2 linked regions of the Homo sapiens genome follow. Each later gene encodes a partner of the first gene's protein in a complex. Each region holds a gene or a part of one and is shown on either strand. Other genes may lie near its edges. The genes, in order: FNIP1 and LAMTOR2.

Region 1 (4,026 bases):
TTTAATGTGACACTGTCTTGTTTCCATGGCTGAGTAGCTTTTGTACCATAGTTCACCAATTGCAGAAAATTATCCTATCTTGTTATTATTGTAAAATTTCTGATCTACACTATTCCATAAGAGCAGTTTTTCTTGGAGCTAAGATTTAGATGAACAAGCACTACTATAATGCTCTGTAAAAGGCATATATGACTATATTTGCTTACATAATCAAGTTGATGATTGTAGAGTATGTTCATGTGTATATATCCAGGATTCTAATCATATTCCTTGTTTTCACACATTTTAGCGGATTACCTAACATTGTAACCTTTTAGTGGAAATTACTGGAATGTGAACACATTTACTCTTCATTGTTCTCAGATTGGTATCAATTTAGCCCTTCTTGTTTTGATTAATATTTTCTTTCCCTGTAAATATTAGATATAAAAAATATATATTTGTAGAAAACTTGGAAAACACTTTTAAAAGGCAAAAATATATATTAGCCATTTTATCAGCCAGAAATACCTGCTTTTTTGTTTTTTAAAGAAAATGGGGATCATACTATTCAAATAAATATCTCAATTTATTATAGAGAATTTTGAAACATACATTGTTATAGGCAGAAACAGTACAGTGAACTATGATATACCCACCACTTGGTCCCAGCAAGCACTCATACTGTTCAGTAGCTTGCTTTTTTTCATTTAATAGTATATTATAAATATGTCACTGAATATGCTTCCAAAATATGACTTTTAGTCACTCCTTGCTTCTTTAGATATTATGTTTTAGATTCTTATACTGTGTATCAAATCTTCACAGAGCTCTCAAAGCTTGTTCAACTGAGTAATAGCTCTTGGTGTTGGGTTGGTGCCATGCTATTGAAAAAAATAAGGGAATGCAATGAGATGAGCATGATTTCGTTTGCTATTTAAAAGGAGCTGTTCATCCACCTGAATAGCAATATATTTTATAACTGACAGTTTCATCTTTATTTATAGTTCACAGCAACCCAATGGACATGCCTGGAAGAGAGCTCAATGAGGACAGAGACAGTGGCATAGCACGGTCTGGTAATGTCACGTTCTTGTATTCAGTTTTTTATGAGATTACTGTTGGCATTGATTTTCTTTTTTATCCCTCCCTTTATTATCAAATTTGTTCATATTGATATTAGCCTTACAAGAGAACTGTGAAAAGACCAGAGCAAAGTCTTATAAATTTAATATTTTTCATGTTTACTTTTAAGTGTGCTAAGTAGGATAAAGCCAGGATGAAGTAAAGCCAGAGTAAAGTACACTGGTTGAAGCTTAGTGAATATAAGAAGAAAAGCATTGGTCAGAAAAACTGCTTAGAAACTGTAGTAAAAAAAAAACACGTTTGCTTATATTTGCTTGCTGCTAACTAAAGTTTAAATTGTCATATTGTCTCTTGCCCAGAAAAGCATAGGCATTTTGAATCAATGTTATACTTTTTTTTTTTTTCCAAATATGGACCTGTCCAAAATTTGTAGGTCTAGCAAACATTTATTGAAACATGGTGGACATTAAAAAAATTAAAGCCCAGAGTCTGCCCTTACGGAACACAGATGTATGGAGTCTACTGGGAGAAAAATTAGGAAAATCATCTGTCATAGGTCATTGTGTGATGCATTTAGTGATAGGCCTGCGCAAAAAGCTTCAGCGAAAGAGCACCACACTTAGCCTGGGCAAGGGGCAGGGATGCCAACAATGCTTTACAGAAGGATGATGATTGAGTTGTATTTTGAGAAATAAATAGCAGTTATCCAGGCAAAAGCTCAGAAAAGCATTTTAGCTAAAAGGAAAAGTGTTTGTTGGGGCCCAGAGAGCAGCATAAGTAAAAGGAGGAGTAATTTTAGGCTTGAATTACTGTTAGATATGAGAAACTTAATTCAGTGTGATAGCATGTGTTGTTACATTATATGGCTCTGCTATCGAAATTGTTTTGTAATTCAGTTTTGAGTATAAATGAAAAATCTAAACTTGCTGTATATTGCAATCCCTAGGTATGTATTAGAATAACAAAGAGAAGTTTTATAAAAAATTCAAGTGCCTGAACTCTACTTTCAAAGACTCTCGTGTAACCTAGAGAAGGTATCTCTAGGCATCTGTATTTGTGAAACAAAACAAAATGCAAAACCTAACACTTGATTCTAATGGATAGCTAGGGTTGCCGACCACTACTCTAATAAGAGTAGCTTGTGTTTTTCAAGTAATCTCATCTTTCTTTTCTAATTGAGTTTCTTATTTTTGTTTTAAAGAATCTAGAGTTTATTTCTTTTAATAAACTTTGCTTCGATGTAATCTAGATATTTAGTCTTCCCTGGCAGGAATTTAATTCTCATTATTTTATTTAAGATTTAAGTATAATTTATTTATACTTACATTCTTTGTAAGTTGAAGCATCTGGCTAGACTGATCTGTTAGGCTGCTTCAAGTTATTGGATTCATATATGCCATTTAAGTTAATGTGTGTTTTCTTTTTTTTCTAATAGGGTTATTTTTAATATTAGAATGCAGTGAAATGTATTTTTTCCAAACTTAGGACAGCATTTTATTTTTCACTGAAGTCATACCCAGATTTAGTTGTACATACCCAATCTTGGACTACAAGAGTTTATAATACTAATTGATAAAATGTGGTCTGCATTTAGAATCTGCATTCTAAAGTAATTTAGAATGAGTTCATTGATGGTCTACATGTTTGCATGGCACATACAGCTTTATCCTCTATCATTGAATTTGTCAGAATTCAAATGAATAGATCTTCATAATGAAAGTGTCTCAGTTTTTAGTGCTGGTGTCCAAAATAATTTATCATCTGGCCTGTACCTTTTTAATAGTGATGATAATGGTTCCCTGTTTTGAATATACATTTTCAGTATGTGCTTATGATCATGAAAGATAGAAGTCTGGAATATTGCCAAACAAAAGCAAGCCCTTAATGGCAAGTGTTATCCTCTCTAAATCCAGTGGGGAAAAGCCTGATGAAAATCTCCTAGCCTAATGAAAAATCAGCAGTTGTAGCTCTTAACACCTCAAGCAATAAACATATCTTACAGATTTCACAGAAGTGTTTCGGGAAGGGAATAATCCATCCCCAAGATCAGGGGATTGCAGCCGTGAAAGAGTGGAGTCTGCTGGAATGTGTTTGTCACCTTAGATGCTCCAGGGAGCATTCTTTTTTTGGAGCTTAGTAGGTATAGTCATGATTCTTAATTAAAAGTGGTAGGTTTGACTACATGTGCACATGTGATCCATGAATACTTGTAAATGACCTCTTTAAATGCCATTCAGACACTTATTTTCAATAGCTTGTTCTTAAAATCCAGCTGCTGCATTAAGTTTGAATAGCATCAGATTTCCTTTAATTTAAGAACTAAAAGGATTCAACTGAGTTAGGGGACAGTCAATCCAGTGGCCAAAGGGATAATGCCTTGTTGCAAAGTATAATTTTCTTCTGGAGTCCCTAGAGGGGAATGCCAAAAGGGGATTGTCTCAGAGTTTTTTGCTGATACATTGTTAATATATGATTTTTCTCCTCTGAGACCTTGCTACAAGAAGGATGTGTTCTTTTAATGAACATTTTTGAGGCTCATGAAGCAAAATAAAGTTTAACTTAACCTATTTGTAATTTTGTTAAAAAGAAATTTGTCATTATGCTTAGTCATTATTGACTTATACTTGTTGTTCTTCTGACTTAACAGCATCTCTCAGCAGCTTGCTGATCACTCCATTTCCTTCCCCAAACTCCTCACTTACCCGAAGTTGTGCCAGCAGCTACCAGCGACGTTGGCGACGCAGCCAAACAACAAGTTTGGAAAATGGGGTATTTCCTAGATGGTAAGTTGGAACTTTAAACACAGAACAAGATTGAGTAGTTCCTTAAACACAATTTTATATGGGTTTTTTAGAACCTGGACTTGTATTCTGTGTATTTTAAGTTTGAAACTGAAAACTTTTAAAATTTACTACATTTTTAAAATTGTGGTAAGTTATACATAACAAGTTACAATTTTAA
Region 2 (4,284 bases), on another chromosome or scaffold:
CTGGTATTTCTCCTCTTTTCCCATGGTAATGTTTTTCAAATTGCAGATTTGACCCCACAGTTAGGAGATAAATTAAGAAGGTTGATCAGCATTAAAAACCAAAAAAGAAAAAATGAAGTATATTACATGTAGTAGGAAAAGTATTGTTTCATGACTTTTGTTTTAGTGGGTCTATGTGTGTGTTGAGCTCTGACTTAAAATGTCTTTCTTAAAAAATTTTTTCCTATTTATTTATTTATTAAAATTTTTTTTGTAGAGATGGGGTCTTATTAGGTCACCAAGGCTGGTCTTGAACTCCTGGCCTCAGATAATCCTCCAGCCTCAGCCTCCCAAAGTGTTGGGATTACAGGAGTGAGGCACTGTGCTCAGCCTTAAAATGTATTTCTTTTTTTTTTTTTTTTTTTGAGATGGAGTCTTGCTCTGTTGCCCAGGCTGGAGTGCAGTGGCGTGATCTCGGCTCACTGCAACCACTGCCTCCTGGGTTCAAGTGATTCTCCTGCCTCAGCCTCCTGAGTGGCTGGGATTACAGGCACGCACCACCATGCCCAGCTAATTTTTGTATTTTTAGTAGAGATGGGGTTTCACCATGTTGGCCAGGCTGGTCTTGAACACCTGACTTTGTGATCCGCCCGCCTCGGCCTCCCAAAGTGCTGGGATTACAGGCATGAGCCACCATGCCCAGCCCCTTAAAATGTATTTCTTATGGCTGGGTTGTGGTCAAAACGTTTGAAAGCTATTGCCCTATAGCACCAGCTCTAGGCATCCAGTAGGAGTCATATGTTGAACTAAAAATGGCATTGGTTGTGCAGGGGGTAGGGGAGAGTAGGCAGTTGAGTTACAATGAAGATCCTTCCTGGAGAGTTCACCTTCTGGCCAATTTGAAAAAAACAAAAGTAAGTTCAGCAAACTTTTACTAGGTATTTATTGTATGCCAGGAACCAAGCACTGCACTCCCTGCCTCTCTGACCTCATCTCCTACTACCCTCCTCCATCTCACGTAACTCCAGCCATACCAACCAACCCTGTTGATCCTTGAGCAGGCATAATTCTGCCTCAGGGCCTTGGTACTTGCTGTTCTGTCCAAAATATTCTTCCCTCAGATAACCACATGGCTTGTCCCCCACCTTTCTTCAGATCATTGATCAAATGTCACCTTTTCAGTGAGACTGTCCCTGACACATACACCCAACAAACTCATACTCTTTCACTTCCCTGCTTTCTCTCCATTGCATTTTCAATACCTAATATATACTATATATTTTACTTATTTTAAAAAATGTGGCCAGGCACAGTGACTCACGCCTGTAATCCCAGCACTTTGGGAGGCCAACGTGGGTAGATCGCTTGAGCCAGGAGTTTGAGACCAGCCTGGGCAACATGGCAAAACCCAGTCTCTGGAAAAATGCAAAAATTAGCGAGGTGTGGTGGTGCATGTCTGTAGTCCCGGCTACTCAGGAGGCTGGGGCAGGAGGATCACCTGAGCCCAGGGAGGTCGAGGCTGCAGTGAGCCGTGATTGTATCACTGTGTAAGATTTATTAGGGCTGGGGGTTTTGTCTTTCTGTTTGCTATTTTTTCCCTAGTCCTGAGAATACTGCAAGGACCTAAATACTTGTCGACCGAACAGATACTAAGAAGTTCACAATCTAATGGTGACTTCCCCTTTCTGGACTTCATTTTCCTTTCTTTGAAAGCTTAAGGGGTTGGACTAGGGTCTGGAGACTGCCATGGTTCTGTGAGTCGGTGAAACTGGGATGACAACACTTTGTGTTTGCACGTCATTCTACTGTTTATACCCATTATTTCATCTGACCTTCACAACAACCCATGAGGGGAGCGGGGAGAGGGAAATTATTGTCTTCTCCTTAAACATGAGGTAAGGAAGCTGAGAGAGGTTAAGCGACTTACCCAAGGTTCCACAACTGATAAGTGGATGGCTGAGACCAGAACCCAAGTCAGACCTCTCAGGTCCAGGGATCCTTCCTCACCACCACTTGATGAATAGGGTCCTGCCTATTACAAATGCTGCTGCAGACCAACTCTTAGTAATCTTCCGGAGATCCTGTCCCTGCCCCTCCAACCATCCAGGATGGGGTCCAGGTCGCCCCCTTGGGATCCCCTTTGGGGGACAGGGGAAGTCTGGCTCCCCTCTCCATACCATGCAGTCCATGAGGATGAATTTGAGATTGTCTTCATTAAACGCTTGGTTCCCGTTCCGGTCGTAGGCGGCCCAGATGTTACTGGCTATGGCAGCGGTGACCCGGGCGTCAGTGTCCCCGTAACCAGAGTAGGCCAGCAGTGATCCCTCGTTATTCAGCAGCCTGGTGAGGGGCGGGGAGGGATAGCGATGTGCTCAGAGCGGGGAGTAAAACGTCTGGGTTTCCATCCCAAGTCCCACCAAGGGCACATCCAGCAAGGCTCTGGCCTGAGCGTGTCCCGGAACATGCCCTAAGCACCCAGCACACCGGCTTCCCTTTTCGACAGGGGACCTCCCGGCCGGTATCCCCAGCCGCTGCCCCCTCTGCCGCTTCCTCCCTTCCTGGTGATCCTTCCCCACCCCTCCCTCAGGGAGCCGCGCGCCGCCCCACTGCAGCGCTCGCCGCTCGGGTCCGTGGTCTGCACTCACAGGGTGCTCTGGACGCCTCCAGTGTTGGCTTGGCTTAGCACCTGGGTCAAAGCCTTGGGGCGCAGCATGCCTACGGTTCCTAACCCTGGGCTTTTGCACCCAGATCTCCGAGGTGCCTCCCGCGGGCCGCTGCCCGCTGCTTCCCGTAGTCCCGTTGGCCTGCTCCGGGACGCCCTGGGAGTTGTAGTTTCTTCGCCTGGCTATTGTGGTTCCGACTCAACCCCGCCCCACCGCGGGGGGCTCTGGGAATCGTAGTTCTTTGTGGCCTCGCGAGGCACCCTGGGAATTATAGTTCGCCTTTCCAAGCCGACCACGCGGTTGTTGGGGGGCGGAAAAGAACGGGAGTGAAAGGACAGCAGCAGCGCTGGAAGGACATTTAACCCCTTCGGGGAGAAAGGAATCAACGTGTCCGCTTGGCAGTCCACGATTCAATAATTATACTACATCCTCATATTTGTCAGGCACGCCTTTGGTTACTTTCAAAACAGTTTTCTCCGTTATGCACAATTCTGTGCGATGAGGCGAGAGGTACTATTATTATTATCTTGAGGAAACCAAGGCTCTGAAAGGCCACGCAGCCAAAACCCAGCTCCCTGGAACCGTTCTTAATAGACCATTCAGGCCGCGACCCTCGGGGCTATAGGGTCAGTCCCAGAGCTGAGAACCTAGGTGGACGTGCTTGGTGGGAAAACCCAACCTCCAAGTCGGGAAAGTCCCCTGGCCTGGAAGGGACTTGGGCTTCCAAGAAAGACCAAGTTATCACAGGGAACGGAGATAAAGCGGCGACACAGAAAGTCCTTTGTCCCGGAGCCGAGTTAGCCGCGGAGGGGGCGGGGAGGCTTTGGGCTGGAGGGGACCGCGGCACGGCTCGGGCGGGCAGCGTTGGGTCGCGGTCTCCCGGGGCAGTCCGCCCTCGCCCCCGCAATGAAGGGCACGCCCCTTCCCCCTCCCAGAGGCCCCCCAGGGGCCCCCGCCTGGCGAGACCCTGGCCGGGCTCCGGACCTGGGGCTTGGCCCTGGGCGGACCCCGCTGCAGTGGCCCCCCCGGTCCGCCCGGGGCGCTGTGGCTGCGGCTGGTCCGGAGGGGGCGGTGAAGCCTCGGGGAGGGGAGGGGAGGAGAGAGGAGGGGAGGGGAGGGGAGGGGAGAGGTGGAGAGAGGGGAGTGTTGGAGGCGCAGAAGCCGAGCCGGGCCGGCCGGGCGGGCGGGGAGGAGGAGGAGCCGGGCGGGCTGGCGGGCGGCCGGGTGGCGGCGGCGGCATGGCGGAGCCGAGCGGGGCCGAGACGAGGCCCCCCATTCGGGTCACCGTCAAGACCCCCAAGGACAAGGAGGAAATTGTGATCTGCGATCGAGCCTCGGTCAAGGAGGTAGTACAGCAGGCGGGGGGCGGGGGGAGCGCGGAGGAGGGGTCTGCGAAGAGATGGGGGGCCTCTCTGACGGTCCGGCGTCCCGGAGGGCCCCGGAGAGGAGGGCGGGGGCCGGCTGGGACTCCGAGGAGCTGAAGGCAAGGAGAGGCGGGTAGGGGGCGCCCTGCGAGGGGAGATCTGGGGGAGCGTGGCGCGTGTTGAGGGGCGGGTTTTGCCTTGTGGCCTGGGGGCGTGGTGGAGAGTGAGGAGGGGACACCTTGCACCGGGAAGGGGGAAGGACCCTGGGTTTGAGGGGA

The links.
Region 2: FNIP1 (region 1) and LAMTOR2 share a complex: the UniProt entries of both Homo sapiens proteins name them as parts of the lysosomal folliculin complex.

Annotation. Positions count from the first base shown.
Region 1 is NC_000005.10:131,706,233-131,710,258, reverse strand, and holds part of FNIP1 (folliculin-interacting protein 1), read left to right. Parts: intron 1-986; coding exon 987-1,058; intron 1,059-3,712; coding exon 3,713-3,848; intron 3,849-4,026. UniProt on the Homo sapiens protein: Binding partner of the GTPase-activating protein FLCN: involved in the cellular response to amino acid availability by regulating the non-canonical mTORC1 signaling cascade controlling the MiT/TFE factors TFEB and TFE3.
Region 2 is NC_000001.11:156,053,298-156,057,581, reverse strand, and holds the start of LAMTOR2 (ragulator complex protein LAMTOR2), read right to left. Parts: upstream 2,801-4,284; 5' UTR 2,693-2,800; coding exon 2,625-2,692; intron 2,320-2,624; coding exon 2,157-2,319; intron 1-2,156. Other genes in the region: UBQLN4 (ubiquilin-4), read left to right, coding at 3,881-3,988. UniProt on the Homo sapiens protein: As part of the Ragulator complex it is involved in amino acid sensing and activation of mTORC1, a signaling complex promoting cell growth in response to growth factors, energy levels, and amino acids.